Regions from separate parts of the Homo sapiens genome. Here regions 1 and 3 are each linked to region 2. Evidence: fine-mapped expression QTL. A gene starts in region 2. Each other region holds a variant in brackets. All regions are shown on one strand. Distances are between the middles of the regions. Region 1 overlaps PRKCB (protein kinase C beta). Region 2 holds the start of SLC5A11 (solute carrier family 5 member 11). Region 3 overlaps TNRC6A (trinucleotide repeat containing adaptor 6A).

What was found. PIP is the estimated chance that this variant, and not a neighbour inherited with it, causes the effect.
Region 1: its variant is fine-mapped to the expression of SLC5A11 in uterus (GTEx, PIP 0.98).
Region 3: its variant is fine-mapped to the expression of SLC5A11 in whole blood (INTERVAL, PIP above 0.99).

What each region holds. Positions count from the first base shown.
Region 1 is chr16:23,852,818-23,863,277 of GRCh38, forward strand. The region is part of intron 2 of PRKCB (protein kinase C beta); the gene reads left to right. Among named protein-coding and RNA genes, the nearest start is that of PRKCB, 22 kb to the left of the region's middle. RefSeq lists an enhancer at 703-792. The variant G/A (reference allele first, on the strand shown) is at 4,840.
Region 2 is chr16:24,842,169-24,852,628 of GRCh38, forward strand. SLC5A11 (solute carrier family 5 member 11) reads left to right here and starts at 3,795. Exons shown (of 17, transcript NM_001352248.3): 1 at 3,795-3,844; 2 at 4,064-4,270.
Region 3 is chr16:24,814,997-24,825,456 of GRCh38, forward strand. It overlaps TNRC6A (trinucleotide repeat containing adaptor 6A), which reads left to right. Exons shown (of 25, transcript NM_014494.4): 19 at 151-309; 20 at 1,820-1,960; 21 at 3,597-3,704; 22 at 5,143-5,364; 23 at 7,081-7,151; 24 at 7,878-8,017; 25 at 8,436-10,460. The coding sequence ends at 8,811. Among named protein-coding and RNA genes, the nearest start is that of SLC5A11, 26 kb to the right of the region's middle. RefSeq lists an enhancer at 7,816-8,316. The variant C/T (reference allele first, on the strand shown) is at 5,410.

The sequences.
Region 1 (10,460 bases), 990 kb before region 2:
CACTTTTCTGTTATGCAACTCCATTGACTTATGCCCATTTTTCTGTTAAAAAATTTAAAAAGTGCAGAGCTTTAAGTTACTGAGGCTGAGCCTGAGAAATGTTAGCTGGGACTTTTTTAGTTTTGCATAGAGGAAGTGAAATCCGTATGGGAGACAGGCACCTTCTGGAATCACCCATTGGGGAATGGTGCCGTTTGCCTTCTTTGGGGAACATCTGCTTCCTGTTTCAATGTTGCCCATCGGTTCCAGACTGTTCAACAAGGAAGCCAGGGCATTCTGACAGTTTTTCCACACAATAATTTAGCTCTGTAAATACTAGGAAAACTTGAGCTCACAAACTATTTTTAGGGCTTAACATTTCAAAAATTCTGTATTAGTAAGAATCTATTAAAGCTGCTGTAACAGACAAACCTTGAAGTCTCTGTGGCTTGACAGAAGGGAGTTTATTTCTTACTCATGTCACTAACCAGTGCAGGTGGTCCTGGTCAGGACATCTTCCACAGAGTCACACAGGACCCCAGGGTCCTCCCCATTGGGCCAGTGGAAGGGGAAAGGGAAATTGAGAAAGCACACTCATTTCACAACAACTTCAGCTGGGGAAGGAAGTCACATCACTTCTGCTCACATTCTATTTGCCAGAACCCAGGCAAAGAGGCAACCAACGGAAGGGGGTCCTGGGACATGTCGACTAGCTCTATGTCCAGGAGGAAAAGAAAACAGGTTTTGATGAACTCAGTAAATCTCACTCCAGTCTCCAAAGCCATAATTTCCTTTGTCTTTCTTTGCGGTGATGTATCTAGTTTTATCTCTCACTTGACTGGTAAAACTAAGATGCAAAACTCTGGACGTCTTTATCTTATCAAACATAGCAGGGAAAGAGTGAGTTCTATTTGTGTTCCTAAAAGTGAAATAAAGAAGCACTTTTCTTGTTTTTAGTTATTAGAACAATCTGGCTCTTGTCAGACTTTCTAGTTTTTCAATCAGTCAGAATTCTTGCCTCTCTGGTTGCCTGTTGTATTAATCCATTCTCATGCTGCTAATAAAGGCATAACTGAGACTGGGTAATTTATAAAGGAAAGAGGTTTAATTGACTCACAATTCAGCATGGCTGGGGAGGCCTCACAATCATGGCAGAAGGCAAAGGAAGGTCAAGGCACTTCTTACATGGCAGCAGGCAAGAGAGCGTGCACAGGGGAACTGCCCTTTATAAAACCATCAGATCTCGTGAGACTTATTCACTATCACGAGAACAGCATTAGAAAACCCACCCCCATGATTCCATTACCTTCCGCCAGGTCCTTCTCATGACACATGGGGATTATGAGAGCTACAATTCAAGATGAGATTTGGGTGGGGACACAGCCAAACCATATCACCTGTGGACATCCCAAGCAGATCTCTTTGAGGCCGGGTTAGTTCTCTTCTAAGCTGACTTGTTATATAGAAGAATCCTTTGTTGGTTCTACTTCCAGATATTTGACTGGACACCCAACAAATCAATTATCTATTGCTGGATAGCACATAACCTCAAGGCTTAGTGGCTTAAAGTAGCCACTGTTTTATTTAGTTTTAGTTTCTGTGGGTCAGTAATTTGGGCTGGGCTCAGCTGGGTGGTCTGTCTGATCTGGGCAGGGATTGGCTGTTCTTGGCTGGGCTCATTTACCTTCCTGGGGCCTCAGCAGGGATGTCTAGGACAACTGGGGCCTCTCTTCAGGTCTTTCATCTTCCAGTGGGCTATCCTGAGCATGGTCATATGCTGATGGGTGCATTCTCTGGGCATGAGCAAGGGCTGCAGGGCTTCTTGAAGCCAAGGCTCAGAACATGCATAACATCACTTCTGCCATATTCCCTGGTCAAAGCAAATCACAAGCCCACCCCAGAAGTAAAGGAGGAAATAGAGAAGAGAATAGAGATGCCTCCTCTTGATGGGAGAAGCTGCAAATAATTTGTGATATTTTTTGGAACCCACCACACTAATTTCAGTGTGGTCCTCGCAATTGCTTGGCTGTCTAAAAACATACTCCAGTCTAGTGTGCATTTCTGAAAATGAACTTGATCAAAGGCAGGCCCCAAATGAGTGCTCAACATTTACACCTGATAATAATACTACCTACCTCCTAGGGAAATGGTAGGGCCAGATGAGATGCTGTATGCAAAGGATACGGCCAGGACTTAGTGCACACGCAACACTGAATACTACCACCATGACTACTGAATACTGCCATCAAATACTACCGTTACTACCACTTGGCACTCCCTAAAAGCTTGAGATTCAGAGAAAGGAAGACAAAGCCCCTGTACTTGAGGAGGGAGAGAATAAAGAGAGCCGGCGGGGGAGGGGGTGGCAGGAGAGAGAGAGAGAGAGAGGCGTGTGAGTGAGTTCTTGCAACACAGTGTGGTCAGTGTGATCACAGAGCTGTGATGGAGTGCGGATGAGGTCTGATGACTTACTGGTCAAGAGCATGGGTTCAGGCCTCAGTTCCTCCCCAATCACATGTGGGGTCTTAGGCATCTTTCTTTTTAATCTTCAGTTTCTTTGTCTGTGAAATGAAGATAATGGCACAGAGCCTACCTCCCAGAGTTCTATGTGGATTAAATGAGACAGGCAAACAACAACAAAAACCACAAACAAACAAAAAACAAAAATGAAAACAAAAATCATGTGATTGCTTATTAAATGTTAGTTATAGAAAAAAATATAAGTTCTTAAATGTGCCCTTGTAAAAATGTCCTAAAGACCTCATCTTTATTTAGTTCTTCTGCAACTCTGGCTAGCATCATTGATAAATTGTCTTAAAAGATGAAGATTTGTATGCAGGTGGTTTATTGGGGATGTAGCTCTTGGGAACAACATCTATAAGGGATAGAGGGAAGCAGGGAAGAGGTAGTTGAACTGTGGTGCAATAGTTGTAATAGAGGCCAAAGCCAATTCCATGGCTGGAGCTGAGACGGCCCTTCAGAACTGGGACAAGCCAATGCATCAAGTGGGCATTGATTGTGGGCTGCTCTTTGGAAGGCAGCATTACCTTGGGCAAAGCAGCTCCCTTCTTCAGGGGAGGAGTCCCAGGGAGGACACAGCTGTGAGCAATTGGTTTTCCCAGCAGCTGGGGGAATGAGTGCCTTGTCCCTATAGATGGTTTTGAGGGGGCTGCATTTGGGGGAATGCCTTCTGGGGTTCACTGCGTGCTTCTATGTCTTTCTTAGAGGTTCATTTCAAACTATACCTTGGTTCATTCACAGTACTGATTTAGTTACTATCCAGATTCATAGACTGTACTTGCTGGCACTGGAATATCATGGACAGAGAGTCCTAATCTGACTAGGCCTAGGGAATGACATGGGAATAGCTTGTCCTGGGTCATCCAGCTACCAGAGAGGAGAGCTGGGATTCATATCCAACCAACGATACTTTATACCTCACATTACTTCTGTTATGCTACACACTCCTGAGTCACAGGAGATTCCAACTTGTATTTCAAGCCCAGACTGCATGACTTCAATGTCCTGTTGCCCTTAACCCCTGTATCAGATTGCAGCCCCACTCTGGAAAGTTTTCTTGAATTCTTCTATGTATGTTTTTTAAACTGTGGGTCATCACTCATTAGAAGTTCATGAAGTCAATATAATAGGTCAAGAATACCATGAAGAAAGCAGAACAGAAAATATCACAGTGCATCACTCTCAGGAAGGGTAGATATTGTTTCACGAAACTTTTTTTTTTTTTGAGACAGGGTCTTTGTCTGTCGCACAGGCTGGAGTGCAGTGGTACAATCATAGCTGACTGTATCCTCAACCTCCCAGGCCCAAGAGATCCTCCCACCTCATTCTCATGAGTAGCTGGGACTTGAGGCACATGCCATCATGCCTGGCTAATTTCTAAAACTTTTTGTAGAGATAGGGTCTCCCTATGTTGCTCGGGCTGGTCTCAAACTCCTGAGCTCAAACAGTCCTCCTACCTTGGCTTCCCAAAGTACTGGGATTATAGGCATGAGCCACTACTCCTGGCCTCATACAATTTTTATTTGATATAAACATATATAGCCATGAGTGAACTGGGTCAAAATGTAAAATGTGTCTCTTACTGCAGGTAACTGTCAATGTAGTTCGAATATCACTGTGAAATATATAGAGAAGAGGCTCTGGGGGCTCATGAACTTGGCCCATGGACTGTTGAGGCTTTTTTTTTAATCTTTAGAGATGATATAAATGTAGTGCTTTGAATTCTTTATAATTAGAAGTTTTATTCTTACCCCATCACCATGTCCCAAGATAATTTTTATTATCATCTTTCAGCTTTAACATATCACAGACAAAAGTTATTTTTCCAAATAGAATTTTAAGTATGGTATAAGAGGTTTTTAGAAATGGAATGATTGGTTTTGGCGGAACTGCCTGGCCTGACCTGTCACTCGGGTGAAGTGTCAGAGAGCTGTGTCGAATGCTGGCGGAGAACTGTCCCTCTCCTGCAGAGAGAAGGAGCTGCTTATCCTGGGGGATAATGTGGGTTGAGAAAGAAGTGTTTTATGAGCAGAATCAGCACAGAGGGAGGGAGGAGGAGGTGTTTAGGGGCTGCAGAGAGCCGCCAGAAGATGTGGGAACAGTATGCCAGCACGGAGGTGGGTCAGATCCCCATGGTGGGACTCTGCTGAGGGTTGCCTCCAGCCGAGACTTCCAAGGGCTGGGATTCAGTGTGTGTTTATGTTCTCTGGTGTGCCTGATAGGTGGGGGCCCACATGACAGCTGGCCTCTCTGTGTTTCCCTTCTGGCCGTCTCTGATTTGGGGCCCAAGGGCCATAGGGGGGCCAGGGCACTCCAGATGGGACGAAAAGTCAAGTCCAA[G/A]AAAAAAATGAAATCCGGGCTAGGCTTGTCCCTGCTTGAGGATGTGAGAGAGAGAGAGAGAGTGTGTGTGTGTGTGTGGGTGTGTGCGCACGTGCGTCTGCAGTCCCTAGAAGGATCTCTATTCATTGGACAGAGAGGCCAAGGGAATTTTCCATTTCCTGGATGTCTTCAAAGATTTCAAATGCCATTAACTTGAGCTGACATTTATTGAGTACTCACTCGGTGACTGGCACTGTTCTAAGTACTTTACATGTATTAACTTATTTAATCCTCACAACAGCCCTGTGTGGCTGCTACTGTTATTGTTGCCATTTTATGCTGAGAAAACAGCACAAAGAATTGAGAAATTTTTCCAAAGTTACAGTTAGGATTCAAAAATAGACTTGGTTTTAGGATTGTGTAACTTCAGAATTGATGGTGACAATGACGTTGATGATGAGGATGATGATGATGATGATGAAGGCAGCTAATATTTCAGTGTCTGCAATGAGCTGGGCATTTTCACAAACTTTATCCCTTTGAATCTTTACCTTCCACTAAGATTTGCTGCTATTCTTATCCCTTTTGTAGATAAGAAAGCAAGCTTAGAGAAGATAAAACATTTGCTTAAGTAACTGCAGAGCGTAGATTGAATTCAGGTCCATTCGAGTCAGACTGTCTGTTCACCAAGGTGAAGGGCTCCGGGGGTCACAGAGGAGCACCATGGTGAGGAAGGCCCCGTAAGAGTGTGGCAGAATGGCAACCAGGAAGGATCTGGTATACGGGATGGTGATAAGGCCCATCTCTCATGGCCAGGAAAGTGTGCCTGCCACAGCAATGAATGAAACTGGCAACATTTGACAGGAAGGGGAAATTCTCTAGTGGGAGGAATACTTCCATCAAACTGTTTTTTTTTTTTCCCAGTGGGGGAGTTTGCACATGTGTAGATTTTTTTAGCCATAGCCTTGAATAAGGAATTCAGAAAGTGGCTTCTAGTTTGAGGACTTTCATTGGCCACGTGATCACAGTAGGCTGATTTCTTCATGCCTAAGTTACCAGGCTGGGAGGACAGGCTGAGAACTATGCAAGCTGTTGAGTCACTTGGAAGGAAGAGGGTTACATACAGCAGGCACTTTCATGGAATAATACTTCCCTGAAGAGCTGCACTAATTTATTGAGGCACTGAGCTGGATGCTTCACACACATGATCTCATTGAATGTCCACAGCACCCTAGGAGGTTGATCTCATTATTAACTTCATGAAGTGACTGAGGCTTAGAGATATTAAATAGCTTCCAGCCTGGGAAACATAGTGAAACCCCATCTCTGCAAAGAATAAAAAAAAATGAGCTAGGTGTGGTGGCTCGTGCTTATATTCACAGCTACTTAGGAGGCTGAGGTGGGAGGATCCCTTGAGCTTGTGAGGGTTGAGGCTGTAGTGAGCTTTGATGGCACCACTGCACTCCAGTCTGGGTGACAGAGTGAGACCCTCTCTCTAAACAAACAAATCCCAGGAGACATTAATTAACTTGCCACTGGTCTCTAAGCTAAGTAGTTGAAGAGGGCAACAAACCCAGGTGGTCTGACTCCTAGGCTTGAAGGTCCAGGTTCAGCTACTCCACCAGTATCCCTGGTCAGTCTTTGGCCAGGGCACAGAAGGTGGCATATCAAGTTGTGGGGTCTGATTTGGAAAGTGTGAGATCCCTCCTTTGTATCTTTTCCAAAGTCCACTCAGAAGAGAGTAGTGTAAAAGGAGTGATAGCACAGCGTGGTCTGGCTGGCATAGTCAGCCGCCCTGTGATGGGCAGGGGGAAGCTGCTTTCTGTCCTCAAGCAGCCCCTAAACTTGTAGGCCAGACTCATAAATCACACATTGATAACTCAGTGTGATGTGTGCTGTAATGGTGGAGAGGGGGGAGAAATGCCAGGAGCAGCTCACCTCCCAGGGTCCTGGGGAGGCTGCACAGAGGAGCCTGAGTTCTCAGTTGGGTTTTGAGGCAGAGGAAGCAGTGAAAGAGAGAGGAAGAATGTCAGTGAGGTGCGGGGAGAAGCAAGAGAGAGAAGACACTTGGCAGGAAGAAGTAGTTGAAGTACCCGGGGATGTTTAGCTTGAAGAATAGAAAATTTGGAGGAGGCAGAGAAAAGGCAGGAAACTTTAAAAGCAGGAGAGAAAGACCTCCAGGTTCCCAAAGGGAGCATGGCACTTCTCAAGGGGGTGAGGTTGACAGCATTAGGAGAGAGAGAGAGAGAAAGAGAGAGAGAGAAAGAGAGAGAGCGAGAGAGTTGTCAAGGAAGGGAAGGACCCATGGAGGGGAGAGCACAGGTGAAAATGAGAAGTGATGGGAAAATGGGTGGGAAATAAATGAAGTTTTGAGGCCAGTTGAGAAATCTTGCTTGGTGGTTTCTATTTTCTTTGTGAAGCAGAAAAAAAGAGGAATTAGACAGACCTGCATTCAAATCTCATGACCCCAGGCAAATTTCTTATCCTTAGCTTCTTCATTTTGAAAAAGGGGTGAATGATAATAGGACCTACCTAATAAGAGTTGTCAGGATCAAATATGTTAGTGCTTGTGTAAGATGCAGTGGCACCCTGGCACTTAGTACCAAAAAAAAGTACTATAAATGTTGTCACCTATTGAGGGAGTCCGGGTTTGGGTGCTTGATACATAGAAATATCATGAATAGCAGCAGAGAATACAAGAAGAAGAGAAAGCTTGGGGGAGAAGATAGAGAATTATGCGTTGGGTATGTTGAGGATGAGGTGCCTGTGCCATATCCGGGTGTAGGTGCCCAAAGGCAACTGGAAGTCATGAGAAGTCAGGGATAGAGGTAAATGTTTGGGAGTTGTTAATACAGGGGTGCATTTTTAAAATATCTGAAGTATGTTACTGGTGGCACTCAAAGATTTTTAATGATGTAAGGTATTCAACAACATGGAACTACGTAGTTTTAAAAGAAATTCTCTTGTAGGCCGCGTGTGGTGGCTCACACCTGTAATCCCAGCACTTTGAGAGGCCAAGGTGGGTGGATCACTTGAGGTCAGGAATTCCAGACCAGCCTGGTGAACATGGTGAAACCCCATCTCTACTAAAAAAAAAAAGAAACAAAACAAATCAAAACAAAAAAACCGGGCATGGTGGTGTGTGCCTGTACTCCCAGCTACTCGGGAGGCTGAGGCAGGAGAATTGCTTGGACCCGGAGTCAGAGGTTGCAGTGAGCCAAGATCGCGCTACTGTACTCTAGCCTAGGCAACAGAATGAGACTCAGTATAAAAAAGAAAAAAATGTTTTTTTCTTTTAATTCTTCGGGTTAAGGAGAGTGTCTTAGTTTGGTGCTATCATGTCCTAAACATCTTTCTAATGCATGCAAATCTCCCTTTTAAGCTAAAAGAATGAAGCAATCTCAGACTCAGAGCTATGTACCTGCTAGAATTTAATAATTTAAATTTTCATTGTGTTCTTCATACTCACCTTCTATTTATAGCAAGTGTTACTAGCTCTCCAATTCTGGAGGTTGTTTCAGATAGGATGCATTAGTTCTTTTTTTTTTTTTGAGACAAGGTCTTGCTCTGTCACCCAGGCTGGAGTGCAGTGGCACAAACACAGCTCACTGCAGCCTCAACCTCCCAGGCTCAAGCAAACCTCCCACTTCAGCCTCCCAGGTAGCTGGGACTACAGGCATGTCCCACCATTCCTAGCTAATTATTTTATTTTTTATAGAAACAGGGTCTCACTGTGTTTCCCAGGCTGGTCTTGAATTTGGGCTCAAGCAATCCTCACACCTCCGCCTCCTAAAGTGCTGGGATTACAGGCATGAGCCACCATGCCTGACCTGCTTTGGTTCTTAAAAACAGAATATCTGGCGAGCCTAACAAGGAGGCTGGTGGTTCCAGGGTTGGTTTAATCAAAGACTTAACACTGTCATCAAGCGCCTCTCAGTTATTTGCTCTGCCATCCTCAAAATGTGATCAGTGTCTCCCTTCTTGGTCCCAGGAAGGCTGTGATAGCTCCCAGAATCACATACTCACAGGGCAAAGCAGGAAGGAAGGGGACATAGGACAAAGGATTTGTGTTTAAGTATTTCATGTCACATTTGCATGTGGTGCTTGGAGCTGTGGCAGCTATGTTTTGACCATGAGGGACAAGGTTGGCAAGCTGTAAATGGCAGTGTAAAAAGAGGGAGAGGATCTGTCTCCTTCACAATATCCTTGAGCCCCTGAATTCACTAATCTTGATATAGCTCTATCTCTTGAAATTTTGTTTTGTTAGATAATTCTCTTACTGCTTAAAACGTCTTAAGATGGGTTTTCTGTTCTTTCCAGTAGAATGCATTGTATCTCACACAATTTGAGGTTATTGCCTCAACCTACTCTGAATCATTGCTCCTCCCCCTTTTTTCCTGGTTGATTAGCTTCTCTTGAGATTGTGTCTTATCTTCCTGGTTTTTTGTATGTCGGGTAATTTTGGATTGTATCCTGGACACTGTAAGTGTTGTGCTGTGGAGACTCTGGATTCATTCGTATTTCTCTGAAAAGCATTGATGTTTTTGTTTTAGTAGGCCATTGACTTGGTTGGACAGTAGACTGTCTCTGGGACACCAGCTCAGATGTCAGTTCTGTTTTTTATTTTATCCTTGAGTCTTCTTTGGGACTGCCCCATGCATGCATGGTTCAAGAGTCAGCCAGACATTTGGGTGGGGTTTAGACACAGAATTTGGGGCTCTTCTCTCTTGGCTGTCTCTATTATGGAATTCCTTCCTCACTTTCCAGAAGCCGTGAGTGACCTGAAACCTGTCCTCTGGTTCTGTACACCAGAAAGACTTGAGGCTTCATGTTGAAGTTTTAGCTGACAGCAGCTTGCGTTCAGGGGAAAAGCTGTAAAATGACCATTCCCTTCTTCCAAGTTTCAACCTCTCTGCAGAATCTGCTTTCTTTTGTTCACTTTCGAGTAATTTCAGGAAAAAATTTTTTTTTCGTTGAGAGTTTTTACTTGTTACCTATGGAAAGGTTGGGTCTAGCTGAAGCTTGCTTGCCCATAACAGAAACGAGACTCTTTTCTGTCTAACACATGGGAAAACTAACGCCCAGAGAGGTGAAGTCATTTCCCCAATTGTCAGAGGCACTTGAGCCAGAGTGACTCCATCTTGAGTAAGGGCTAGGAAAATAAGACCGGGACTTGCTGGGCTGCATTCCCAGAAAGAAAGGTATTCCTAGCCTCTAGATGTCTACAGTTAAGGGAACAGATTGATAATGTTTACTAAACAGAGCCAGGCTTGGCAGTGTCCAGCTATCCCGATATCTTGAGAACAAAGGCATTCCTAATTTTGCTTTAAGGATAATAATATTGATTATTGCAAAACAGAGTAATTAAGAAAATTAATCCTTTATCACAAACCCTTGTAGCAGAACACATCTCTCCATGATTTTTAAAATCATATATATATGATTTATATATATGATTATATAATATATAACATATATGATCATATAATCATATATATGCATGTGTATGTGTATATATATACACATGCATATATATGTATATATGTGTATACATACATACGTATATATGTGTATATATACATACATATATATGTGTATATATATACATATATATACACATACACACACACACACACACACAC
Region 2 (10,460 bases):
GGGACTACAGGTGCACCCCACCACGCCTGGCTAATTTTTGTATTTTTAGTAGAGACAGGGTTTCACCATGTTGGCCAGGATTGTCTCGATCTCTTGACCTCATGATCCGCCCACCTCGGCCTCCCAAAGTGCTAGGATTACAGGGGTAAGCCACTGTGCCCGGCCATCTGCTCTCATTTTTAAAGATATAATTTACATACAATAAAATGCATGAGTCAGCCAGGCGCGGTGGCTCATGCCTGTAATCCCAGCACTTTGGGAGGGTGAGGCAGGAGAATCACTTGAACCCAGGAGACAGAAGTTTAAGTGAGCTGAGATGGCGCCATTGCACTCCATCCTGGGTGATAGAGTGAGACTTGGTCAAAAAAAAAAAAAAAAGCATAAGTGTTCATCCTTCAATTCACGGGGTTTTACCAATTGTATATACCGTATAATTACCACCCAATTCAAGATAATAGAAATTTCCATCACCTCTGAGAGCACACTCCCACCCTCTTCCAGTTGTTCACTGGGTCCTGTTCTTTGACTTCTGTCACCACAAATCCATCTTTCCTGTTCTTGAGCCTCACATAAATTGAATCATAAGGTCTGTACTCTTTTCATGTCAGCTTTTTTTTTTTTTTTTTTTTTTTTTTTTTGAGATGGAGTCTTGCTCTGTCTCACCCAGGCTGGAGTCCAGTGGCGTGATCCTGGCTTACTGCAGCCTCCACCTCCTGGGTTCAAGCAATTCTCCTGTCTCAGCCTCACGAGTAACTGGGACCACAGGCGCACACCACCACAGCAGGATAATTTAATTTTATATTTTTGGAAGAGACAGCGTTTTACAACATAGGCCAGGCTGGTCTCGAACTCCTGACCTCAGGCGATCCACCCACCTCGGCCTCCCAAAGTGCTGGGATCACAGGTGTGACCACCGCACCCAGCCCAGGTCAGCTCCTTTTGCTCAGCATAATGTTTCGTAGAGTCTTCGATTCATCCGTGGTGTTGCGTGGGTTGGGTAGTTCATTCCTTTCGATGAAAGTTTTTCACGGTGTTGGATGCACCGCAGTTTGTTTCTTCACTCACCTGTCGATGGAACTGGTGTTGTTTCCACTTAGAAACAGTTTTGAATAAGGCCACCATGAACACTTGTGTGCACAACTTTTTGGGAACATATGTCTCCATTTCTCTTGATAAATACCTAAGAGTGAAATTGCTGGGTCATGGGGGAGGTGTATGGTAACTTTATTTATTTATTTATTTAATTTTATTTTTTAGATGGAGTTTCGCCTTGTCACCCAGGCTGGAGTGCAATGGCACGGTCTTGGCTCACTGCAACCTCCATCTGCCTCCCAGGTTCAAATGATTCTCCTGCCTCAGCCTCCTGAGTAGCTGGGATTACAGGGGCCCACCACAACACCCAGCTAATTTTTGTATTTTTAGTAGAGACGAGTGCAGGCTGGTCTTGAACTCCTGACCTTGTGATCCACCCACCTTGGCCTCCCAAAGTGCTGCGATTACAGGCATGAGCCACCGCGCTCGGCAAAGTGTATGGTAACTTTATAAGAAATGTCCAAATAGTTCTCTAAAGTGGTTATACAGTTCTTTTTTTTTTTTTTTTTTTTTTTGAATTGAGATCTCATTCTGTTGCCTCGAGTGTAGTGGCACTATCATGGCTCACTGCAGCCTTGAACTCCTGGGCTCAAACGATTCTCCCACCTCAGTCTCCTGAGTAGCTGGGACTACAGGTGCACACTGCTATGTCCATCTAATTCTTCCTATTTTGTGTAGAGATGAGGGTCTCACTGAGTTACCCAGACTGGCCTCTAACTCCTGGCCTCAAGAGATCCTCCTGCCTCAGCTTCCCAAAGCTCTGAGATGATAGCATGAGCCCCTGCACTCCACCTCTCCTATTCTTTATAGCACTGAGGGTAAAAATGAAAAACCTGACAGAGAAACAATCGGAGGTGACAAGCCAAGGGTCGAGCAGGCCACATCTGGCCCTCAAGGATGCGTAATCATGAAACTTTGCAGAACTTCTCTAGAACAATCAGAAGTTCTGACCCCATTGGGCCTGTCTTCCCCCACGTGGAGCTGGGTCGTGGCTGTCCTCTTCAGCTGGGACACATGCTCTCGGGTCAGCCTCAGCTCCACCTGCCCGGCTTCACTCACTACCACGCCTCTTCTGTAGACACCCTGCACATGGCTAAGGCTCCCCAGACATTCCCAAGAAGTCAGGACTGGACCCCAGGTTGGCGAAGCAGTGCACCCTCGGTGGCACCCCACTGCCTTTCCTGGTGCTGTGGCCTCTGCTGCAGATCACAGATTCATGGCCTTCTGTCTGTCCCTCTTCTCCAATCCCAGCTGTTCCTTCTGTAAATCTGTCCCCCAGGGCAGGTCCCTCCCCCAAAGGCCCCATTCATACTGGTGTTGGTCAGTCACCCAGTGTTTGCTCACCCAGGCCACCCTTTATCCAGTCAAGCCACCCTCCACTGCTCCTGCAGGACTCTAGAGCCAGGTGGCCTGGGCTGAAATCTTGCTGTGTCACTTACAACCCGGGTGATCCTGGGCCGATGACTCATCTCCTCTACCTCTGTTACCTCGTCAGTAAGATAGAGATAACAGGACCTAACTTCGAGGGTTGTTGGAAAGACCAAGTGAGTAAAGGCATGTTGTGCCCTTAGAGCCTGGCACGTGTTCATCACTGCTATTATTTCTGGCTACTCGGTGCCAGGACAGGGGCCTCAGCTGAGGGCCCCCCAGAGCCTGGCAGGCCCAGTGAAGGAGTGAGATGGGGAGGCCACGACTCCTCCCCAGTCAGCAGCTGTCCTGTGGCCATGGGGGCCTGGTGAGGCCAGATCTTCAGGTTGTTCTAGAAAAGTGAGTATTCTAGAATTATGTTTCAAGCCTCTTGGTTTGCAAATACTAGTAACTATTTTTAAAATGTTTTGGTATTTGGCCTGGCACAGTGTTTGACCCCTGTAATCCCAGCACTTTGGGAGGCCAAGGTGGGAGGATCACTTAAACCCAGGAGTTGGAGACCAGCCTGGGCAACATAGCAAGATTCTCTCTCTACCAAAAAAATGAAAAAATTAGCTGGGTGTGGTGGTGCACGCCTGTAGTCCCAGCTACTCGGGAGGCTGTGGTGGGAGGATCACTTGAGCCCAGGAGGATGAGCCTGCAGCAAGCTGTGATGCCACCACTGCACTCCAGCCTGGGTGACAGAGTGAGATCCTGTCTCAGAAATAAAAAGTAAATAAAGTTTTGGATGCTTTGAGCATCTGGCAGAAATCTTCGCTATGCCCCGCTGATGTCCTGGGCCCGATGTGGGCGCCTGGCCATGGCTCGGTCACTCCTGACGGTTTTTCAGGGCCTCAGACACCTCTTCTTCTTCTTCTTCTTCTTTTTTTGAGACTGATTTTCGCTCTTGTTGCCCAGGCTGGAGTGCAATGGTGTAATCTCGGCTCACCACAACCTCCGCCTCCCGGATTCAAGTGATTCTCCTGCCTCAGCCTCCCGAGTAGCTGGGACCACAGGCATGCACCACCATACCCGGCTAACTTTGTATTTTTAGTAGAGATGGGGTTTCTCCATGTTGGTCAGGCTGGTCTCGAACTCTCGACTTCAGGCAGACACCTGTTCTTTGCCATGCCTCTGTCTGAAGAGTATATGGAAAGGGGTTGCACAAGCAATGGTTGCTGTTCCTGTTGCTGCCACTGCGGTGAGGGCTGTGGCTGGACGTCCCTCCTGGCACTTTGCCTCTGTCCCCTCCATCCGCCGCCAGCATTTTTCCTCCCCTCCCCTTCCTCCAGCTCGTCCCAAGCCTGCCTGTCCCCAGCGTGGAGGCGGGACAGTGGAAGACTGGGTGAGTGAAGCAGGATGGTGCCTTGGGCTCCAGCGTCTCCCCAACCCCTCCATGCCATGGGTCCCCACGCAGGTGAGGACCCTGGTGGAGGACGGTGTGGGCAGAGCGTGGGACATGTCACCTTCCCCACCTGCTCAGAGTTCAAGGGTCCTGGGCTGGGCCCCGTTCTCTCTTCTGCCCTGGGGAGATCATTCACGCTTCCTTTAATCCCCGCTGCAGCTGAGGCTGGAGTTTGGAGTTTGACCCGCTTGGAGGCTCTCTCAGCAGCGGGCATATAGGAGGAAGGGTCACTGCTGTCTCCGGAAGCTCTTGGCTGCAAAGAGAGAGGATCCCGGGTATCTCCCTCCTTACAACCACCGCCACCTCCTAGTGCCTTAGAAGCCACTGACAGCCCCCAGGGCAGGTGAGCCCTGCATCTGGAATAAGGTAAGACACCCCCTGCCCCCAAACAGGTAGCCACTCTCCAAACTGGGAAGTTGGTCTGGGGACAGGTGCTGGCAGAAGGACTCCAGCTGTCACCTGTGGGGCAGGGGAAGCTCAGCCCTCTCTGCAGAGAAAGCTTGTCATACACCAGGACAATGGAGTGTGTTTGTGGGGTGGGCATGGTGGTATGAAGCCAGCAGCCGGCAGCCAGCAGCACCGTACGTGGGTCCCAGCTCTTCCACTTAACCAAGGTCAGGGACATTGAGCCAAACATTTTGCCTCACCGAGTCTCAGGTTCCTTATCTGTCAAATGGGAATATGAACCTCAGGCTGACCCACCCCACAGGTGTGTTACCCAGAGATAACGAAGGTAAATGTATCCACATAAGCATTAAAAAGCTATAGGAATGTATTTACTACAACTGCAGCTGCTGTTAACTACAAGGCAAATACAAGTCTTCACTGGTACGTGTCAGACACGTGCAGAGAACTTTACGCCTGGATCTCATCTAACTGACACAGAAACCCTGTAAGGTAGGTACAGCACCCCCTAATTCATGGACAGAGTCTAAGGGTCATTAAATAACTTGCTCAAGGTAATACAGATAGTGAGTGGCCAAGCCAAGACTCAATTCCTGTGGCCATGAGCTCAGCCACAATATCAGTGATTTTCTTTTTCTTTCCTTTCTTTCTTTTTCTCTTTCTTTCTTTTTCTTTCTTTTCCTTTCTTTTCTTTGTTCTTTCTTTCTTTCCTTCTTTCTTTTATTTCTTTCCTTATTCCTTTCTTTCCCTTTCTTTCTCCTTCCTTCTTTCCTTCCTTCCCTCCCTCCCACCTCTCTGTTTCTCTTTCTTTTCCCTTTTTTCTTTCTTTCTTTCTTTCTTCTCTCTCTTTTATTATTTATTTCTTCCTTTCTTTCCCTTTCTCCTTCCTTCTTTCCTTCTTTGCCTCCTCTCTCTCTCTGTGTGTGTTTTCTGTTCTCTCTCTCTCTCGTTTCTTTTCTGTCTTTTCTTTCACAGGGTCTCTCTGTGTTGCCCAGGCTGAAATGTAGTACTATCATAGCTCACCAGCATGCCCTGCTAACTTTTTTATTTTTATTTTTTGTACAAATGGGGTCTCCCTGTGTTGCCTTGGCTGGTCTCAATCTCCTGAACTCAAGCGATTCTCCCGCCTCAGCCTTGCAAAGTGCTGGGATTACAGGCATGAGCCACTGCACCCTACCAATCAGTGGTTTTCAAATGGTGTTCTGCTGAATTATTCTGGGCAATAGTTGACAGAAGTGTCCTAGCCCATTGGGCATCCTGCAGATAGGACTTGGAAAAATGCTGTCCCTTTTTTGGGCGGTCACAGCGTGCAAAGGATCTATAGCAAAGGCTCTAAAAATCCCACATTTATTTGTTGTACCAACATTTATTGCATGCCTGTTTTGGGGACACAATGAGAGTGACAGAGACATGGACCTTTCTTTATGGGGCTTGCTGTGCAGTGCAGACAAGGGGTAATCACACACATCAAGTGTTACACTTGATTAGACTGTGATGAGAAGTTGTGTTTGCCATGAAAGCAAAAAGCTTGGGGACCCAATTTATATTGAGGCCAAGAGGGGGCTCCTTTGGGGATATACAGCAGGCTGACATCTAAAGGATGAGTAGGAGCTTGTCCAGCAAAGAGTGCAGGGAAGAGCATCCCAGGCAGAGGGAACAGAATGGCAAAGACCCTGAGGCCAGAAATCGTGTTCCAGGAATAAAATGAATGCTAGTATGTGGTGGGGTTGGAAGCACAACAAAGCACCCCAGCAGCATGGAGATGTTTTGAGCAGGAAAATGATCTGATCTGACTCATACTTAAAGATTTCTCTGGCTTCCGTGTGAGGGGCGGATTAAAAGGAAGCAAGGCTGGGTGAGGTGGCTCATGCCTGCAACCTCAGTGCTTTGGGAGGCCAAGTTGGGAGGATTGCTTGAGGCCTGGAGTTTGAGACCCGTCTGGGCAACATAGCAAGACCCCGTCTCTACAAAAAAATTACAAAATAAGAAGTTAGCTGGAGGCCAGGCATGGTGGCTCACACCTGTAATCCCAGCACTGTGCAGGGATCATTTGAGCCCATGGGGTTGAGGCTGCAGGAGCTGTGTTTGTGTCACTGCACTTTAGCCCAGGCAACAGAGTGAAACCCTGTCTCAAAAAATAAAAAATTAGCTAGGCATGTTGGCATGTACCTGTGGTCCCACCTACTTGGGAGACGGAGGTGGGAGGATCCCTTGAGCACAGATGTTCGAGAGTTTGAGGCCACAGTGAGCTCTGATGGCACCATTGCACTGCGGCTTGGTCAAGGGAACAAGACCCTGTCTCTAAAAATTAAGTAAATTAAAACAAAAATAAAATAATAAAATAAAAAGGAAGGAAGAATGGATATCGGGGAGGTAAGACTGGAGGGTCTTTCTCTAACCTAGACAGAAGTGATGGTGGCTCAGACAAGGGTGATAGCACTAAAAATGAGGGAAAATGTGTGGATTTATTATGTTTTGGAAGTAAGAGAGAATGGAATTGGGAGTGAATAGATTCTGGGAGGTGAGAAAGAGATGCTATAAATTCTTCGATGAGACATTTACATACCAGGCACTCTTGGTGCTTAGATGTAGTGCCTGGCACATAGAGGTGCTCACAGACCACTTGATAAGTGAACAAATGGACTAATGCCTTATAGATGACTCAGGTTTCTGGCAGGAGTGGCAGAGTGGCTGCAGCTGTCATTTAGTGAGGTGGGGAAGACTGGAAGAAGCACGTGCTTGGGCTGGAAAGCTTGGTCTGTAACTCGCACGTGTGAACTTTCAGACATCTATTAAGTAACAATGAGAAGCCGGGCACGGTGGCTCACGCCTGTAATCCCAGCACTTTGGGAGGCCGAGGCGGGTGGATCACCCGAGGTCAGGAGTTCAAGACAAGCTGGGCAACATGGTGAAACCCCATCTCTACTAAAAACACAAAAATTAGCCAGGCGTGGTGACACATGCCTGTAATCCCAGCTACTCGGGAGGCTGAGGCGGGAGAATCGCTTGAACCCGGGAGGCAGAGGTTGCAGTGAGCAGAGATTGCACCACTGCACTCCAGCCTGGGTAACAGAGCGAGACTCTGCCTTGGGGGCAAAAAAAAAAAAAAAAAAAAAATATATATATATATATATATATATATATATCCATGAGAGATGCCACGTTGGCATTTGGATGGACAGGTCTGGGCTCAGAAGGTGCTCTGTGATGTCTATTCTCTCTGGAATAATGAGACAAGATCATCCCTGAAAGGCAGGTGAAGGACAACGCTCTGCCGGGTCCCCTGCACTCACTGGGCATATGCCCTGTTACCCTGCTGTGGACCATTCAGGGAACGCTGCCCTGCCCTGCCATGCCTAGAATTTATTTCCAGATACCTGAAGCCGTGGCTCTTGCTAACGGACTAGGGGTGATCCTGGCCTCTGCTTCAGCCTCAAATCCTGAGATGTCTTTTTAAAATTTTTTATTTTATTATCATTATTATTATCTATTATTTGAGACAGGGTCTGGAGTGCAGTGGTGCAATCACAGCTCACTACATCCTCAACCTCTTGGGCTTAAACAATCCTTCTGCCTCAGCCTCCCAAATAGCCAGGCCCACAGACACACAGCACCATGCCCAGCTAATTTTTAAAAATTTGTTGTAGAGGAGAAAAAAAAAAGGGTCTCACTACATTGCCCAAGCTGGGCTCAAACTCCCGGCCTCAAGCGATCTTCATGCCTTGACCCCCCAGAATGCTGGGATTATAGGCATGAGCCATTGAGCCCAGCCAGGATCTGTCTTTTTGGCCTTTTTGTAGAGATCTCTCTGTTTCTATGAACCCCATGGCATCAACGGGTGGAGGAGGCCAGGGGTGGTCATTTAGCTCCTTATTCCTGCAGTTCTAGTCCCAGACAGCCCTTCTCTGCCTTCCAGGACTGACTCTTTTCCTCTTGTAGGGCTGCCTCCACTAGGCTCCCTAGACCCAGGCCAGGCCAGGGCACAGCTTGCTGCAGTGCAGCAGGCAGTCAGCGCCACTGCAGCCCAGGAGTGGTAGGAAAGGGTGCGAGTGGCTTCCAGCCTGGGTGATGAGACCCGTGCCAGTCCTTATCACATCTGGAATTTTCCCCACCAAGGTCCACGTGTCTCGGGGTAGTTAGGAGCTCTAGAGTTAAACCTGGGTTGGAGCCCTGCTTCAGTCATTTACTAGCAGTGTGGCCTTAGACCCGGCCTCAGCTTTGTTTTCCTCACCTGTACAATGGAGTTAATCAGAGTCCTTGTAGGGAGGCTGTGACTTCAAAACATGATTCATGCACATATGTGGCCAAGGTTTGCCTAACCACAAAGTTTATTCGTTTTTTTTTTTTCTTTAAGACAGAGTCTTGCTCTGTCACCCAGGCTAGAGTGCAGTGGTGAAATTTCAGCTCACTGCAACCTCCACCTCCCAGGTTCAAGCGATTCTTCTGCCTCAGCCTCCCAAGTAGCTGGGATTACAGGAGCCCACCACCACGCCCTGCTAATTTTTGTATTTTTAGTGGAGACAGGGTTTCATCACGTTGGCCAGGCTGGTCTCGAACTCTGGACCTCAAGCAATCCACCTGCCTCAGCCTCCCAAAGTGCTGGGATTACAGGCATAAGCCACTGCACCCGGCCTAGTTTATGCTCCTTTTATTTTTATTTTTATTGTTTTTAGAGATAGGGTCTCACTCTGTCACCAGGCTGGAATGCAGTGGTGCAATCATAGCTCAATGCAGTCTCAAACTCCTGGGCTTGGGCCCAGGGCAGTGGCTCACGCCTGTAATCCCAGCACTTTGGGAGGCCAAGGCAGGCGGATCACCTGAGGTCAGGAGTTCAAGACCAGCCTGGCCAACATGGTGAAACCCCATGTCTACTAAAAATACAAAAAAAGAAAAAAAAAATTAGCCGGACGTGGTTGCAAACGCCTGTAATCCCAGCTACCTGGGAGGCTGAGGCAGGCGAATCGCTTGGGGGCAGGAGAATCGCTTGAAGCCAGGAGGCAGAGGTTGCAGTGAGCCAAGATTGCACCACTGCACTACAGTCTGGGGGACAGAGTGAGACTTCATCTCAAAAAAAACAAAACAAAACAAAACTCCTGGGCTCAAGCAATCCTCCTGCCTCAGCCTCCCAAGTCATGCTTTCTTTAAAAAAAATGGTTTTATAAAATGGACGGGGAACAGAACAAGTACTCTGTATTTAATCACATTACACATACAATGAACATGCCTACTGCTTTTTACAAACCTGTGACGTATGTCTAATTATTAACCTCATTTCGTAGATGGGAAATTGAGCCTCAGAGAGGTGACTTGCCCACGATGAAGGAGCTCACAGGAGGCAGAGCTGGGATCTGAGTCAGGGCGGTGCAGTTCTAAAGTATTTACACTTTACGCTTTATCACGACATATCTATTTCCTGGAGAGTCTGTTGCTCATAATTAAAATTTGTAATTAGTCATTGTCATTTTCATTCAGAGCAGGGAACTTCCCTTGCTTCTCTCTCTCTCTCTCTCTCTCTCTCCCACTCTATCTGTTTCTCCCCCGATTCCTGCCACCCCCTCTAATGTGTTTGATACTCATCTGGAAATACGCCTGCACTCTGGCAAAATAGTACTATTTTGTGTCTTTGAGTGCTTTGGCTTCATGCTATAAATTGTGCTCTGTTTATTTCCCTCCTTTTTCTTTCATTATGAAACGTTTCAGACACACAGAAGTTATAAAGAATCACGCACATCCAGAAGCCAGCCTAAGGCATGAAATGCGGCAAATACAATCACAGCTCACCTTCCCACACCTGTGACCTGGGAACCTCTTTTCTGATCTTTTCCTTGCACTGGGGTGTGGAAATTTTTCACATCTCCTGGGGCGTGGAAAATTTTCACATCTACCATAGCAAATTATGTCAGTGGCCAAAAGGAAGGGATGAGAGAAGTCCCTGCTCCACTGAGCTTCCTTTTGTGCATTGGCCAATAGGCGACCTCAAGGGTAGGCTGTTCTCCTTGCCAACAAAGCCTTTGTTATAACACAAGCTGCCGTGAATCCTCCCCGCGGGCACAGGGAGGGTTCTTCACAAGAGGTGAAGAAGGAGCCACCCCCAACCACCCCAACCAGACCCTCCTGAGGCAGCCTGGGAGCCAAACATCACCATGCAAGG
Region 3 (10,460 bases), 27 kb before region 2:
TTAGAATCTCAATATAAAAGAGTTACTCTAGAGAACACAGCCTAGAGCCCACAGATCTAATAGAAAGTGTTCATGCTACATTTGAAAAGCTATAAGAAATAAATCTGTGTGTATTTTGCTCACATTTCTCTATTATTCTTCCCTTGTTAGGTGCTATTTCAAGTGGTTTCAGGCTGGAAGAGTCTCCATTTGTTCCCTATGACTTTATGAACAGCAGTACTTCACCAGCCAGTCCTCCAGGTTCAATAGGAGATGGCTGGCCACGTGCCAAATCGCCTAACGGCTCTAGCAGTGTTAATTGGCCACCAGGTAAAATTTTTTCTAACACTTTCTTTCATGAGACTGTGTTTCCATTAAGGTTTTGTTACATCTGGACTTACTACTGATGTAGCCCAGATCGGCGTGCTTAGACTGACGTGTGCGGATGAGAAGGAATGCAGAAGTGATTGAGGAAAAGTTAAGCATGAAGTCTTGGGCAAGTGAGTGTGTCAGCCTGTTACCTATGCCTTTATGCTCAAGCAGCAGAGGTAGAAGTGAGCCCCATTGACCAGCATGAAGAATTATATTAAAAACTTTAGGCTGGGCGCAGTGGCACATGCCAGTAATCCCAGCACTTTGGGAGGCCGAGGCGGGCGGATCACGAGGTCAGGAGATCGAGACCATGCTGGCTAACACGGTGAAACCCCGTCTCTACTAAAACTACAAAAAATTAGCCAGGCGTGGTGGCGGGCGCCTGTAGTCCCAGCTACAGGAGGCTGAGGCAGGAGAATGGCGTGAACCCGGGAGGCAGAGCTTGCAGTGAGCCGAAATTGCGCCACTGCACTCCAGCCTGGGCGACAGAGCAAGACAACAACAACAAAAACTTTAATTCGCTGTTTCTCGTAAGTTGTGTCAGGGAGTAACTTGCAGTATTTTCATTCATACATAGGAGTTACCAGAAGTGCTTCTATGGCCTGCTTTCTCCTACCTGAGTTGCAGTAGCTTTGTGATTTGTCTTAAAGCTTAAAGCACTTTTAAATGTTACTGTTTAAAAATAAACATGAATCTGGCGGGTACGGTGGCTCATGCCTGTAATCCTAGCACTTTGGGAGGCTGAGGTGGGCAGGTAACGAGGTCCCAGGAGATGGAGACCGTCCTAGCTAACACGGTGAAACCCCATCTCTACTAAAAATGCAAAAAGAAATTAGCCGGGTATGGCGGTGTGTGCCCGTAGTCCCAGCTACTCGGGAGGCTGAGGCAGGAGAGTGGCGTGAACACAGGAGGCGGAGCTCGCAGTGAGCCAAGATCATGCCACTGCACTCCAGCCTGGGCAACAGAGCGAGACTCTGTCTCAAAAAAAAAAAAAAAAAAATACATGAATCACAGCCAGGCACAGTGGCTTATGCCTGTAATCCCAGCACTTTGGGAGGCTGAGGTGGGAGATCACTTGAGTCCAGGAGTTCAAAGCTGCAGTGAGCTGTGATTGCACCACTACACTCCAACCTGGGTGATAGAGAAAGACCCTGTCTCAAACATACATACATATATATGATTTTTTAACACACACACAAGTACGTATGTGTATATGTTACGTGTGTGTGTGGGTATGTATATTCACATTCAGTGAGATGATTTCAGTTGTAAAAACTTGCAAGTAATTTATAAAGAATAGCTTCTATAATACTAATTGTATTAACTGAACCATCCTCTTAGAGTATTAGTGTAAATTGGAAAGTATTTGAGAGTTGCATAGGATTCAGGAATAAAGGTTTTGGATATTTATTAATGGATTTTAAAATGATGATTAAGCTTTGAACTAATTTTAAATTTCCGTTTCCAGAATTTCGTCCTGGTGAGCCATGGAAAGGTTATCCAAACATTGACCCTGAAACTGACCCTTACGTCACTCCTGGCAGTGTCATAAACAATCTTTCAATTAATACTGTGCGGGAAGTTGACCACCTCAGGGACAGGAACAGTGGTACGTAGGGGGTGCAAATCAATTTCTGAGTGACACTTAACACAGTTTAAGAATGGCTCATGTAGTACCCAGCTACTCTGGGCGACTGAGCCCAGGGTACTCTGGGATCACTTGAGCCCAGGAGCTTGAGGCAAGCCTGGGCAACATAGTTGTGGGACCCTGTCTCTTTAAAAAAGAAAGAAAACGAAGAAGAAGAATGGCAGACAGAATTCTCTCTGTTCCCATAGGTGGCTCTTTAATTTGGCTACTTTTTAAATGGTGAGGATTTTATCATCCCTTAGTATGGCAAATATATATATTAATTTAATAAGTTAACATAAAGGACCAGCAAACCTTTGCTTTCCAGCAGTTGTATTAAAGGAATGAAAAAACAGCAAATGAAGGTTGTTACTAACTTTATACTGAGTTACAAGATTATGGTAGTTTAAAAAATGGGTGTTTCTTGTAAAAGACGTTATATTATTATATATGCTTATATACTCTGAATATTGAAGGACTTTCATCTGGAAGAGCGAATTAGGCTGTCTTTCAGAGAGTAAGAATAAGACCAATTTAAGGATCCCTGCAGTCCAGATGTGCTTTTTAATTGGTTAGCAAATAAAATCCGATTACCTGCCACGGGGTTACTTTTCACCTCAAGGCATTTAGATGTGTTTCATCCATGATTTTGTACCAGAAGAGTGTTAACGAAATTAATTTTTTAAATATTAAAAAGTATTTTCTGTCTTTTTAAAATACCATCTATACCTTTAAACAGTTTATAAAGCACATGTGAAGCAGCCACCATGTTGCGTTAGACGTGTAATTTACAGAGGTAACAAGCAGAGAAGAGTCCTTAGCATTGTGAAATGGCTGGGTTTCACAGACAGCTCTGCCCGCTATGGGAACACTAAGCCAAGCATAAATTCTCATGGCGTGGGAGTTAGTGGAAGAATCCGATGGCTCTGAAAGTCAGTAGAGTTTGAATTTGGTGTTAAAGGAAATAGAACATTGAAGGCTTTGAGTGGAAGAATCTTTAAGATGGGGTAATCTGGCTGTGGTGAGCAGAGTGGATTGGGTTGGGAGACAAGCCAGGGAACTGGTGTAGTAATCCAGATGGTGGTCGGGTCTAGAGCTCAACTAGAGTAGTGGTCGATGGGGTTTTGAAAATGGAAAGCTACACCAGGTTTGGGAGCCTGAATATATCGCGTAATGGAGAAGGCTGAAGGGCCTGTTCACTAGTAGTGTCTGTGACCAGGTGCCTTAGAGAGCAGGATAGCCAGTAAGAAGTCACTGGAGCTCAGGGGCGAGTTAGCACCAAGACTCGAACCTCCTTTTTAGACCCAGTGCTGGGAAGCAGAGCCAAGTGCTGTCTTGGTGGCTGGACCCCATTGCTAGAGCGCATCCTCACAGCCAGTGAGGACAAAATCAGAGGGAAAATGCCTGTGCTGAGCCAAGGCAGAGACAATTGGCGAGCTCGCTCAGCATGCTCTTTTGAAGGCAAGAAGGAAGATGTCTCGGGCACCATCTTACCCTGAGTGGACCTGTTTCCTTTCTTGTGGCATACTGTTAGCTTTGATTTCTCTGGAAGCTTTTGCTTTTTCTGAACCTCCACGTCCCTTGCTCTGGTGGCTGATTGGACTCTTCCCCCACACAGGGTCATCCTCATCCTTGAACACCACGCTGCCTTCAACTAGTGCCTGGTCATCCATTCGTGCCTCCAACTACAACGTTCCCCTCAGCAGTACAGCACAAAGCACTTCAGGTGGGCCTCGCCTTCGCTCAGGAAGGGAGGGTTGGTCACAGCCAGAGCCGCGGCTGTTGTTTTAATGCCCTCTTCTTTCGTCCAGTCTTCTCAGGGAATTAGGAGATTCTGTTTGTGAGCCTGGGAAATTATTTTTAACATCCCTTACTCCTTTTTAAACTTACTGTACCCAGCAGTCATCTACTAAAATCAGTTTTCACTGAACAGCTCTCATCTCATCTCAGAGCCACAGCAGCTCTGTAATTAAATGTAATTTAATCCAAACTAGTTCTCAGACTATCTGCAGCGGAGGATCTTTAAAAAAAAAAAAAAATGCCAATCCTCATAGACTGATACTTTTGTAAAATACGGTAAACATGAATTCTGAATTGCTAGGAAAATGATGGCACACTTGAGAGTTACAGGAATGTCAGGTTGCTGTCTGTCTACATATGCGCACTCTGGATTTCTGGACTCGTCCTGCAGCAGATTAGTATGAAACTGTGTTGTGGTGGTCTCCTGGCCATACCCTGAGTAGCACTGACCTAATGCACACACACTTTGTAAGTGAAGTAAGAAAAAGAGTTGATAGTGATGGAAGACAGGAATTGTTCCACTCCTTGCTGTCCCCTCATGCTTTTAGCATGATAGTTGATGTGGTTTACTGTGTACCTGGTCCCTGCATACCCACTCATGTCTCCATTGCTGCGAGGCAGTGTGTGTCAGGAACTGGGCCTGCTGTCTTTTTCTTTCTTCCTTCCTTTCCTTCTTTCTCTCTCTGTCTTTCCTTCCTTTCCTTTCCTTTCTTCTTCCCTCCCTTTTTCTTTCTTTTTTTTTTGTTTTTTTGTTTTTTTGTTTTTTGTTTTGCCATACAGGCTTAGTTTTGAATCCTGGCTCTGCATTAGACCCATAAGCAAATTACTTACCCACTCTGTCTTCAGTAGACTGTGTCAGGACCACAGACAGCACATGCCAGGTGCCCAGCAGCCAATGCTCAGCACAGAGAGGCAGGCACCCCGTGAAGATCTCCTTTGGCAGCTCCTGAGTTGGGGCTCTTTTGCAGTCCTTTTTTCCCTGAGTAAACAACAAAGTTCTAAAATTCACTTAAATGGCCTTTCTTGAGTGACTCAATTACGGTTATTAAGAATTTCACAATTGCTATTTTAGAGCAATTCAGATTGTTTTCCATTTCAGTTTGAGTACAGTTTTGGACACTGGCCTAAGAATTTCATAGGTCTTACAGCTGTTAGTAACAGATCAATGGCTTGAGTGTTTGGAGGGATGGAAAGCAGTTTCCTTTGGACTGATTTTCTTTTTTGGCAGTTTAGTTGATTTGGGGTTTTAAAGTTTCTTTTGTTTGTTAGATTTGCTTTTTGTGGGAGAATGGATGTCATTATTTAAATTTCCTCCTTTCTTAAACATTATTCCTCCCCTCTCCATTTTTTCCCCCTTTGAGTAGCCAGAAATAGTGATTCCAAATTGACATGGTCTCCTGGTTCAGTTACAAACACCTCTCTGGCTCATGAGCTGTGGAAGGTCCCTTTGCCACCTAAAAACATCACTGCTCCGTCCCGCCCACCTCCGGGACTGACTGGTCAGAAGCCACCCTTGTCTACGTGGGATAATTCTCCCCTTCGTATAGGTGGAGGATGGGGAAATTCTGACGCCAGATATACCCCAGGTAAGATGCAGTCGTAAGGTGGGTTTCTGTGGTTTATTTGCTAAA[C/T]GCTAACCAGTACTAACAGTCGAGTTTAACAGAGACCTGAACGGTAAACTATTGCCTCACCTCCATCAGGGGGAATGAGAACTTCGGTAAACAAATGATCCACCCAAAGGCACACAACAGGCTGCAATAACATTAATGCATTAGGAAGCTCCATTGTCTCAGAAGTTCCTCAAGACTACATCTTAAAATGTGTAGGAACTTCCTGCTCATGGCAGGCTTAAACCACATCACATGGAGCAGAAGGCAGTATTGGGCAAGTCTGGGGAACATGGGAGCAGGCCATCTGGGCCTTGAAGACTAGGGGGGTAGCTTGGCCTGTATTAAATGGGGACATTTGAGAGTGAAAGAGAGTGCTGTTGATTAATCATACATGGCCAACAGGCATAAGCCAGAAGGCCCCGGCAGTCTGGTTCCTCTGCCTTTCCTCATTCTATAATGACTAACATTGGATTTGTACTGGCATCATTTCCTGCCTGTGCTGTCTCCACACCATACATATACACACACAGCCCCAGATGAGCCTAGCAGTTTCCCCAGTAAATACAGTCTTATCCTTCACTCTACCTTGCCTGCAAACTACCAAACATTCCCATCTTCAAGCTGAAAATGAGTAATAAAACCTCATTAATATTTTCTGATTAAATATGTAATTTCTGATCTTTAGACAGGTGATTGGCTGTAGGAAAACTTGCAGCTTTTCCTTTGAGTGCGGGTTAATTATAGGAAAAGAACACTAAAGTACGTGCCAAGCTGCTGAATGCAAGTTAACATAATTGGTGTGGTGTGAGTGGTTTTTGGTTTGGTGTGAGTGGTTTTTGGAGGCCGCAGACATCTGTCTGGATGCCAGCTAAGAGACTGGCAGCACACAGCGAGGGGCGCTAGTGAAAGTGGCCCAGGAACCCACCCCAGGGAGGCTTGGTGCAGTTGAGTGGAATTAGGAAACCTGTAGGAGTAAGCCAAGCGAACCGAGGGGCAGCCTCTGCCAAGGCCCAGACACCGGAGAAAGCACAAAGGCTCCCGTTGGAGTGATGAGAGGATTGCAGGGAGTGGAGGAGGATTCCGTGAGAGGTGGATAGGCCTGAGCTGTGTCATGGAATGGTCTTTCCCAGCACCTGAAGTGTTTGTGAGGTGCCTTGAGTTGCAGATGGGGTCAGGGATGAGGGCTGTACTCCCAGGGGAAGGGTGGATGCCACAGGGGTCCAGCAGGAAGGCCAGATGGGGAGCCCCTGCAGTAACCCCGGGGAAAACAAGGAGCATCTGTGCGATCGCAAGCTCTGGAATCCCCTTAAAGCTTCATGCCCTGAAGGACACACACGCAGAGTGATCAGACACTACTGAAGTCTTCCCCAGATGGTACCGTTTGAGATTATTTTAGCTCCTATCAATGAGAAGATCTCAAAAAGATGCAGCCTTTTGTGGCTCACTGCCCTCCTCTGTGGTGAACTGGGAGCCATTCTGAGCTCACTGTCGCCAGAGGCAGAGCCCCCTGCCATAGGAGTTAATGCCTGGCCATGGCTAGGGCGAGCTGAAATTCTGGGCCTAGGGAGAAAGCCTCCCATGTAGAAGTGCAAGGAAGTGAAGGAAGTCAAGAGGCCAGGTGATCTGCTAAGTAACTGTAGTTGGGCTCTTTCAGTCCTGGAAAACTGACTTGTCCTTTTTTTCCTTGTTTAGGTTCCAGCTGGGGTGAGAGCAGCTCAGGGAGAATAACAAATTGGCTTGTTCTAAAAAACCTTACACCTCAGGTAAGGATACCAGATACGCTGGTTTATGTGGCTACGCCAGGGAGCATGGGAACAGAGGTTCGGGTCTGTATGTGAGACAAGGGCTGCTAGGTGGTAGTGAAGCCGAGCAGAGGAAACAGCAGAGGAGTGGTCTGTAGACCTCAGGCAGGCTGTGGTCGAATCTGGTGGTTCACGCTGTAATGTGCCTGGGAACCAACCAAGCATACAGATTCCCAGGCCTCACCCAGAGATTGAGTCAGTAGATCTGGGCTAGGGGCTGGGACTCTGCATTTGTATGAGGGCCTGCAGATGAATTTGACACAGGTGGTCCTTGTTGGCACATGGAGAAATCCTGGTCTGCCCCTGAGGTGAGAGCATTTTCTTAGCCCCTGGCCTGCGCCCTCCTCTGGAGGCTGGGTGTTGAGCTCCCACCTCCCTCCTCCCTCAGGGAGCAGAACCTTGATGGATGCTGTCCTCAGGGCAGGGAAGAGAGAAGACATGGAGCCACAGTGGGGATCTGGGGAGTGTCCAGGAGTCTAGAGGCCAGAGCGGTATGGCTCTGGGAGCAGTGGAGGTGGGGAAGATGGCTCTGCACCCCGTCAGAGCAACGTCAGAGTGTCAGTGAAGAGTGGTGCCAGGAGCACAGAGCCTCAGGAAAGAGAGGAGGGGCAGCAGTGCAGCCTGAAACAGCCTCCTGGAGGGCCCGCGGTGACGCCTCTCACTGGCAGTTTCCACACTGTTTCCTAGATCGATGGCTCAACTCTGCGCACTCTGTGCATGCAGCACGGCCCGCTGATCACATTCCACCTGAACCTCCCTCACGGAAATGCTCTGGTCCGCTACAGTTCAAAAGAAGAGGTAGTGAAGGCACAAAAGTCTCTGCACATGTAAGTTGGCTGTTGGGCTCCCAGTTGGAAGAGTCTAGGGGAAGGAGTGTGAGAGCACAGCCTGACCCGGGGCAGTGCACAGGGTCCTGCGTGGGTGGCTCCTGCTGGCTGCAGTAGTGCCCTGATTCCAAGGTCGGCATTCCTAAGCGGGGAATCAGACCTGGCTAGATGGCCCTAGAAAGTCCCTTACGTTGCCCATGGCAGACAGAGGAAGTTCGCTCTGGGCAAGGCACCAGGCCCTGGAGAGCTGTGGGTGCACACTCGGGTGAAGGGAGGGCACGCAGGTTATGTGGTGTAGTCTCTCCCTCTGTGCCTTCTGTGGCTTTTCTAGCAGAGACAAGTTGCACCCTCACTTGTGAGTGAATGAAGCCCTCCTGGTGTGCTGTCCTCACGTGTCCGCGGTGCCTCTCTCCTCTAGGTGTGTACTGGGGAACACTACTATTCTTGCTGAGTTTGCCAGTGAAGAGGAGATCAGTCGTTTCTTTGCACAAAGCCAGTCTCTGACCCCTTCTCCCGGCTGGCAGTCTCTCGGGTCCAGCCAGAGCCGGCTGGGCTCCCTCGACTGTTCCCACTCATTCTCCAGCCGGACCGATCTCAATCACTGGAATGGTGCTGGGCTGTCGGGAACTAACTGTGGAGACCTTCACGGCACTTCACTCTGGGGGACCCCGCATTATTCCACAAGCCTGTGGGGTCCCCCAAGCAGCAGCGACCCCCGAGGAATTAGCAGCCCATCTCCCATTAACGCTTTTCTTTCTGTTGACCACCTGGGTGGGGGTGGAGAGTCCATGTAACAGTGTAGATGCAGACTCACCGACCGGGACCTCAGACGCGAGGGAAAGGAGCACTAAGTGGGGCTCGCCGCCTGCAGCCAGGGGCCGCCTGTGGGAACAGCTATTCTCTGCACATTTTCCACTTTGTTTTCCCCAAAACATATCAGTTTGAATACTTGAATCATGCAGGCCAATATTATAATGTGAAAAGGTATCTACTCTATTTACACTCCCAAATAGCGCCATACATGCTAAACCGTAGAGAATGAGCTCGCTTGTGTCTATTCATCATGTTTAGCCTTTGGATTCTTTTTTTTTTTTTCCTTCTATTCCTCCCCAACCCCCCCCCCCGCCCCTTTTTTTCTCTCTTGCAAAACCATTTTTTGGGCTGATAACGTATGAGCTTTTCCCTTTGCACTGAATGATGTTCTCTCCGTCTCATCGGCAGTATGGGGGGCAGCTGTCCCAGTGTCAATGTTTACTCAAGGGTGTTCTTAGGAGGCGTGCGCTCTCTACTATGCCTTGATGTTGCCTACCTTATTGTGGTATCGTGGAGTTTAAAAGATCAAGTTAGGATGCTGACTTAGGATTATTAATGAAAGTGTTGCACCAGTTTTTTCATGTTGTAAAACTAAAGAATTTCGCTCTGCAGTTTGAAAAACTGTGGCCACAGCTGTGACTTGCAGCCCACCTGCCACCCAGGACGGGCCCTGCACTTTGAATAGGCTTTCCATTTTGTTTTGGAGGTTCTCACTTTGAACCTTCTTGTTTACAGATTTTTTTGTTTGTTTTTTGAGAAAAAAAAATGTTTACTCTTCCATCATTTAAAAAAAATGTAAAAGACAAAAAAAAAATGGAGGATGATTTAAAAGATGCTTTCTATCTCTGGGAAAAAGGAGCAGCATTTGGCCATGTTCTTTTGTTTTTCTATTCCTGTCCCAAATCAAAGAGCATGGTTCTCAGGAAAACCAGTTCCCCAGTTTAAAAAAAAAAAAAAAAATTCCTTGTAGTTTCTTAGAGGAAAAAAAGAAAAACCCCAACTTTTAGCACTGATACTACATATTGCTCTGTTAAAGAATTTTCTCTGCCAAAAAAAAAGAAAAAACAAAAAAACGCTTAAAGCTGGAGTTTGACATTCTGCTTTCAGATGCTGTCTTTTTATTAGTGAGTGATGATGGTTTGCTAATAATCAATAGGTAATAATTTTTTGTAATCCCATCAAGTGGCTCCATATGTTTCTGCTCTCTCGTGACTGTGTTAATGTTTAACTGTTGTACCTTAAAGCCGAAATCAGTAACTATGCATACTGTAACCAAGGTATTGGGCTTACAGAGTTGTTTGTTGTATAAAGAAAATTTTAAATGTTGTTGCAAACTAACGAGTTACACCATTTTAAACTTTCTTTCCTCCCCCCTTTTTTTGCCCACAAATGGTATTATAATGCTTGCTTAGTCAAAGAAGAGAGACTAAACAAGGGTAAAAATTTTAACAGTACAGAATTTGCCATCATATCATTGCCTTGATTCTAACTGTTTGTGTCCTAAGATGCAAAAGAAGTCAGTGGCTTTTAACTGTTTACAAATAGAATGTGATTGTAAAATGTACAGTTTGGTTGTGTTTGAATTATGAAATTTCTTCAGATATAATAAACCATGACTTTTTGGCTGCTC